2 linked regions of the Homo sapiens genome follow. The protein of the gene in region 1 interacts with the protein of each later gene in a pairwise test. Each region holds a gene or a part of one and is shown in the gene's direction. Other genes may lie near its edges.

Evidence for each region. The genes of interacting proteins can lie anywhere in the genome.
Region 2: the proteins of SKIL (region 1) and ATP1A3 interact in binary tests that used the Homo sapiens proteins (3 or more experiments, as listed by UniProt).

What each region holds. Positions count from the first base shown.
Region 1 is NC_000003.12:170,360,710-170,364,458, forward strand, and holds part of SKIL (ski-like protein), read left to right. Parts: coding exon 1-720; intron 721-3,749. UniProt on the Homo sapiens protein: May have regulatory role in cell division or differentiation in response to extracellular signals.
Region 2 is NC_000019.10:41,973,482-41,977,230, reverse strand, and holds part of ATP1A3 (sodium/potassium-transporting ATPase subunit alpha-3), read left to right. Parts: intron 1-664; coding exon 665-815; intron 816-1,433; coding exon 1,434-1,602; intron 1,603-3,749. UniProt on the Homo sapiens protein: This is the catalytic component of the active enzyme, which catalyzes the hydrolysis of ATP coupled with the exchange of sodium and potassium ions across the plasma membrane.

The sequences.
Region 1 (3,749 bases):
CCTCAGGTTCTTCCTGGCCCATTGCTCATCCCTTCAGATAGCTCCACAGAACTCACTCAGACTGTGTTGGAAGGGGAATCTATTTCTTGTTTTCAAGTTGGAGGAGAAAAGAGACTCTGTTTGCCCCAAGTCTTAAATTCTGTTCTCCGAGAATTTACACTCCAGCAAATAAATACAGTGTGTGATGAACTGTACATATATTGTTCAAGGTGTACTTCAGACCAGCTTCATATCTTAAAGGTACTGGGCATACTTCCATTCAATGCCCCATCCTGTGGGCTGATTACATTAACTGATGCACAAAGATTATGTAATGCTTTATTGCGGCCACGAACTTTTCCTCAAAATGGTAGCGTACTTCCTGCTAAAAGCTCATTGGCCCAGTTAAAGGAAACTGGCAGTGCCTTTGAAGTGGAGCATGAATGCCTAGGCAAATGTCAGGGTTTATTTGCACCCCAGTTTTATGTTCAGCCTGATGCTCCGTGTATTCAATGTCTGGAGTGTTGTGGAATGTTTGCACCCCAGACGTTTGTGATGCATTCTCACAGATCACCTGACAAAAGAACTTGCCACTGGGGCTTTGAATCAGCTAAATGGCATTGCTATCTTCATGTGAACCAAAAATACTTAGGAACACCTGAAGAAAAGAAACTGAAGATAATTTTAGAAGAAATGAAGGAGAAGTTTAGCATGAGAAGTGGAAAGAGAAATCAATCCAAGGCAAGTTTTTTATATCAATTTTTAATAATGGTAATGGTTTACTTTGAAATGAAAATTCTATGTTTAGTGTGTAACTTAACCTGTATGTTGAACATTGCTCATGCAACAACAACAAAATACCGATTGATATATTTGTATTGCAGTTTTTAGGCCATAAAGTGCTTTGCAGTATGTTTCCTCATTTGACTTTCCAAACATCCTGTGAGAGAAGTAAGACTATTATTCCGTTTTACAGATAAAGTGAATGAAGCTCAGAGAGATAAAATGACTTTCCCAAAATTATGTAGCCAGGGAGTGGAGGAGTTAGGGCTTCTTTTTTTTTTTTTTTTGTGCTTTTAGTAGAGGCCAGGTTTCAGCATGTTGGCCAGGCTGGTCTTGAACTCCTGACCGCGTGATCCGCCCACCTTGGCCTCCCAAAGGGCTGGGATTACATCCTTGAGCCCCTGTGTCCAGCCAGGGCTTCTTTTTCTTATCCTCTTTGGCACACATCTTGCTTCTTGACCACTACATCTGTTGTTTTTCTAGGACTCGATAATTTGCGCTTTGGTGTTATCTCCATTTGCAAATGGTACAATGGCCACAATTCCCGTGGGCTCAAAACAGCATTTTTCAGAGATACACCTATGATTTCTGATGTTTCTATGTTTGGATATTCAGGCTTGCTCAATATTTGAAACAAATGGAAAAGACATGTATCTGAAGAATTTGTGATTTGAAAGGAATAACAAAAAAAATGACAGCTAGAGTAAGGAAAAGTTATTTTAAACTAATAAAATATTAATATAAAAACCTGCCGGGCTCAGTGGCTCACACCTGTAATCCCAACACTTTGGGGGGCTGAAGTAGGTGGATCACCTGAGGTCAGGAGTTTGAGACCAGCCTGGCCAACATGGTGAAATCCCATCTCTACTAAAAATACAAAAATTAGACGGATGTGGTGTCGCACACTTGTAATCCCAGCTACTCAGGAGCTGAGGCAGGAGAATCGCTTGAACCCCGGAGGCGGAGGTTGTAGTGAGCCGAGATTGTGCCATTGCGCTCCAGCGTAGGCGTCGAGGGAAACTCCATCAAAAAACAAAACAAAACAAACAAACAACCTATCAACAGGTGGGAGCAATGAATGGCTCACAATCCCAGCACTTTGGGAGGCCCAGGTGGGCAGATCACTTCAGGTCAGGAGTTTGAGACCAGCCTGGCCAACATGGTAAAACCCCATCTCTACTAAAAATACAAAAATTAGCCAGGCATGGTGGTGTGTGTTTGTAGTCCCAGCTACTTGGGAGGCTGAGCCAGGAGAATCGCTTGAACCTGGGAAGCGGAGGTTGCAGTAAGCCGAGATCACGCCACCACAGTCCATCCTGGGCGTCAGAGTAAGACTCCATTTCAAAAAAAAAAAACACAACCACCTATCAGCCAAGGTATCATAATTTTATTTTTCCTGCTGCATTATCTAGTAGGCTAAACTATTATTTTCATTCCAAGGTTTTGAATGCCGAGGTAATGGACAAGATTGGGATTATTAAATATTTAGTTTCTTGATCGGGTTGTTTTATATTTTTTCCTATTTGACTAAAATTAATGTGTAATAACAGTTCCTAACACTAAGTGTTTAAAATGTGGCAAACATTATTCTTGAGCAGTTTTACATATATAATTTTATTTAATTCTTAACAAGAGGTTGGCTGTGTTTCATTTAGGAACTTTGAATTTTTCCACTATTAGTTTTGATTCCTTGAAATATCCTTGCCCATTTCTATTTTACAGAAGAAATGAATAAAGCATATTAAATGACTGACTGAAGGTTTATTCACAGCAAAGTTAGAGCTTGGACTAGTCCTTAAGACTTGGGATCCTGAGCTTTATTCTGGTGCCTTTAAGGTTTTGAGGGAAATTTAGTTAACAGTGTAGTTTAAGACATTGGTTAAGCCTAATGAAGATAATAATTTTAGACTCATTTATGGTAGTTTGCTGCTTGCTGCTTCCAGAAGACCAGCACTTTGAAATTTCTTGCCAGTGGCTGCTAGATAAGTTTATATTCTTCAGGTGTAGTTATTAACTGATTTTTTTTTTTTTGAGACAGAGTTTCGCTCCTGTTGCCCAGGCTAGAGCTCAGTGGCGCGATCTTGGCAGATTGCAGCCTCCGCCTCCTGGGTTCAAGTGATTCTCCTGCCTCAGCCTCCTGAGTCACTGGGATTACAGGCATCAGCCACCACACCCTTTAATTTTTGTTATTTTTAGCAGAGACTGGTTTCGCCATGTTAGCTAGGCTGGTCTCAAACTCCTGACCTCGGGTGATCCACCCGCCTTGGCTTCTCAAAGTGCTGGGATTACAGGTGTGAGCCACTGCTCTCGGCCTATTAACTAATTTTAAATCAGGATTGACTTCAAGCCAGTGCTCAGTGTAGAACTTGCTTACAGTTGGACTTGTCCCGTGCTGAAGTTTGTGCTCAGAGATTATATTTCAAAATGTGGAATGCCCCTTTTGATATTTGTGATATCTTGCCCCCAAGCTAATTAGGTGCTGTACTTTTTTTTTTGTAGAGACAAGTCTTGCTCTGTCGCCGAGGCTGGAGTGCAGTGGCACGATCTCGGCTCACTGCAACCTCTGCCTCCTGGGTTCAAGCAATTCTCCTGCCTCAGTCTTCCGAGTAGCTGGGACTTCAGGCGCCCACCGCCATGCCCAGCTAATTTCTTTTGTATTTTAGTAGAGAGGGGGTTTCACCATGTTGCCCAGGCTGGCCTCGAACTCCTGAGCTCAGGCAATGCGCCTGTCTCTGCCTCCCAAAATGCTAGGATTACAGGCGTGAGCCACCATGCCCAGTGGTGGTCTACTCTTACATGTCTGTTGGAGGCCACATTTGCCAGATATTGTTGCTCCCGTCTTTTTTTTTTTTTTTTTTTTTTTTTTTTTGAGACAGAGTTTCGCTCTTATTGCCCAGGCTGGAGTACAATGGCGCGATCTCAGTTCACTGCAATCTCCACCTCCCAGATTCAAGTGATTCTCCTGTCTCAGCCTCCCAAGTAGCCGG
Region 2 (3,749 bases), on another chromosome or scaffold:
TTGTCTCTCTTTTCTGTTCTGTTTTTCTGACTTCTTCAACTTTCCCATCCTCATACCTATCTCTGACTCTGCCTTCCTTCAGCTTGTCCATTTATCTCCGTTCCTCTGAATCCACTGTGTCTTGGCTGGGCGCAGTGGCTCACGCCTGTAATCCCAGCATTTTGGGAGGCCGAGGTGGGTGGATCACTTGAGGTCAGGAGTTCGAGAGCAGCCTGGCCAACATGGCAAAACCCCATCTGCACTAAAAATTAAAAAAAAATTAGCCAGGCGTGGTGGTGGGCACCTGTAATCCTATCTACTAGGGAGGCTGAGACAGGAAAATCACTTGAACCCAAGAAGCAAAGGTTGCAGTGAGCCGAGATTGCGCCACTGCACTCCAGCTTGGGTGACAGAGCGAGACTCCATCTCAAAAATAAATAAATAAATAATAAATAAATAAATAAATAAATCCACTGCCCCAAAGTCCTTCCTCAGGTCTGCCCGCACGCCCTGCTGCAGTAGCCCCCTTCTCCCCTGCTTCTCCCAGAGGCCTCTTCCCCCAGCCCCTGGTCCTCTGGCTCTCCTGGTTGTGGGGCTGGCCCCTCTGTTTCTCTGTCTTTCAGGGATCACTTTGCCACTCCTCACACACCCTGACCTCAGCCATCGCTCTCTCTGCTCTTCCCAGGGATGCCAAGGCCTGCGTGATCCACGGCACCGACCTCAAGGACTTCACCTCCGAGCAAATCGACGAGATCCTGCAGAATCACACCGAGATCGTCTTCGCCCGCACATCCCCCCAGCAGAAGCTCATCATTGTGGAGGGCTGTCAGAGACAGGTGGGCTGCGCTCCCGCAGAGGAGGGGACGGGGCCTTGACTCCTGGGTCCTCACTGAGGCCGGGGCCTGGTTTCCTGGGTCTGAGGGAGGAGGGGCTGGGGGTCTGGACCCCTGGGTCTGAGAGAGGAGGGTCTGGGGGCCTGGACTCCTGGGTCTGAGGGAGGAGGGGGCTGGGGACCTGGACCCTTGGGTCTGAGGGAGGGGGCCTGGACTTCTGGGTATGAGGGAAGAGGGGATAGGGGCCTGAACTCCTGGGTCTGAGGGAGGAGGGGGTGGGGGCCTGGACCCTTGGGTCTGAGGGAGGAGGGGCTGGGGGCCTGGACCCCTGGGTCTGAGGGAGGAGGGTCTGGGGGCCTGGACTGCTGAGTCTGAGGGAGAAGGAGGCTGGGGGCCTGGACCTCTGGGTCTGAGGGAGGAGGGTCTGGGGGTCTGGACCCCTGGGTCTGAGGGAGGAAGGTCTGGAGGCCTGAACTCCTAGGTCTGAGGGGAAGAGGAGGTTGGGGACCTGAACTTCTAGGTCTGAAGGAGGAGGGGGCTGGGGTCCTGGGCTTCTGGATCTGAGGGAGGGGACTCTGGGGACTGGCCTCTGGGTGTCATCCTTACCCTCTCTCCCTCCAGGGTGCAATTGTGGCTGTGACCGGGGATGGTGTGAACGACTCCCCCGCTCTGAAGAAGGCCGACATTGGGGTGGCCATGGGCATCGCTGGCTCTGACGTCTCCAAGCAGGCAGCTGACATGATCCTGCTGGACGACAACTTTGCCTCCATCGTCACAGGGGTGGAGGAGGGTGAGTTGGCCAGGGGTGGCCCTGGAGACCAGGGTCACTACCGGAGGCCTGAGACCAGCAAGGGGAACTGGCCAGGGCTGCAGGGGGATGTGTGGCAGAGACCACAGGCCCCCTGGCCCTGGAGGAGCCTGAGCCTGTCCTTTTCTGTCTTCCTCCCCTGTGGGGTCGGGAGCTCCCCTGGGCAGGACTGAGCTGACACACTTCAGGGTCCCTGCGTCATCCAGCCCAGGCCCCATCTGGTGGGTGAAGCTGACTTGGAGGCTTTTTAAAGATATTCTCAGCCAGGGGCGGCAGCCACGCCTGTAATCCCAGCACTTTGGAAGGCTGAAGCAGGCAGATCATGAGGTCAGAAGATCGAGACCATCCTGGCTAACATGGTGAAACCCCGTCTCTACTAAAAATACAAAAAATTAGCCGGGCATTGTGGCGGTTGCCTGTAGTCCCAGCTACTCGGGAGGCTGAGGCAGGAGAATTGCTTGAACCCAGGAGGTGGAGGTTGCAGTGAGCTGAGATTGCGCCACAGCACTCCAGCCTGGGGGACAGAGCGAGACTCCGTCTCAAAAAAAAAAAAAAATTCTCAAGCCCAACCAGGGGGAAGCCAGGGACCCTGGGGGATACCCCCTCTGCCAGCCTGGGCTGGGGGTCAAGGGAGCTTCCCAGAGTGGACAGGGATGGCTGAGCCAAGTCAGGGGCCATGCTGTGACGTCCACATAGACTAGTGCCAGGGAGTCGCAGGCAGAGGAACCGGTACACAGGCAAGGCGGTGTGAGGGGCTGGGTCTGAGGCTGGTGCTGCTGAGCCGACAGGCACCACCTCCTGACAGGCCCAGACAAGGCCACAGAAGGGTTGGTTCACATTCAGATTTATTTTGATCATCAAATTAATTCATGATAATCATAGACAAATGCAGAAAAGCATTCAGGAAAAAAGTAGAATCACCCGTAACCTCGCCATCCAGAAATAATCACGGTTCATGCCTTGGTGGATTTTCTTCCAATTTCTCTCTCCTATTTGAAATGTCTCTGGTGTAAAAAGTAGTTCATGGTAAAAGAGAATTCAAACGGCAAAGCCGAGCCCAGAGTAACAGATTAAATGTCCTCAGCCCTTGTCTCCTATATCCCAGAGGAAACCATGGTTAACACCTTCTTATCTCCCAAGAGACATCTTTTTTTGGGGGCTGGGGGCGGGGATAGAGTCTCAATCTGTCACCCAGGATGGAGTGCAGTGGCACAATCACGGCTAACTGCAGCCTCCACCTCCGGGACTTAATCGATCCTCCTGCCTCAGGCCCCTAAGTAGCTGAGACTACAGGTATGCACCATCACACCTGGCTGATTTTTAAGATTTTGTAGAGATGGGGTTTCGCCATGTTGCCCAGACTAGTCTTTCTTTTTTTTTGAGACAGAGTCTTGCTCTGTCACCCAGGCTGGAGTACAGGCATGCAATCTCGGCTTACTGTAGCCTCCACCTCCTGGGTTCAAGCAATTCTCCTGCTTCAGCCTCCCGAGTAGCTAGAATTACAGGTGCATGCCACCACACCAGGCTAATTTTTGTATTTTTAGTAGAGATGGGGTTTCACCATGTTAGCCAGGCTGGTCTTGATCTCCTGACCTGAAGTGATCCCCGCACCTTGGCCTCCCAAAGTGCTGGGATTGCAGGGGTGAGCCACCTCGCCCAGCGAGGTCTTCAACTCCTGGGCTCAAGCAATCCTCCCACCTTGGCCTCCCAATTTGCTGGGATTACAGGCATGAGCCACCACGCCTGGCCTCCCCAAGACATCTATGCATACACAGTACACACACTGTCTCAGATACAGCCGTCTGCTCCTTCCGAATCTTGTGCATCATGCTGGAAGCCTGGGAGGCAGCTGTGAGCAGAGCAGACACCATCCCTGTTCTCACAGGGCTGGAGAGACAGCCTTAAACAAGTTAACAGATATGTAATTACAAATTGTGATATATGCCCCGAAGAAAGCAGGCCGCTGTGATAGATAATAGTGAGGGTCCTGCCCAGATGGGGTGGACAGGGAAGGCCTCTCTGAAGTGAGGGAAGAAATACCTAACTTCCGTCAGGGGCCAGGCACGGGGGCTCACGCCTGTAATCCCAGCACTTTGGGAGACCAAGGCGGGAGGATCGCTTGAGCCCAG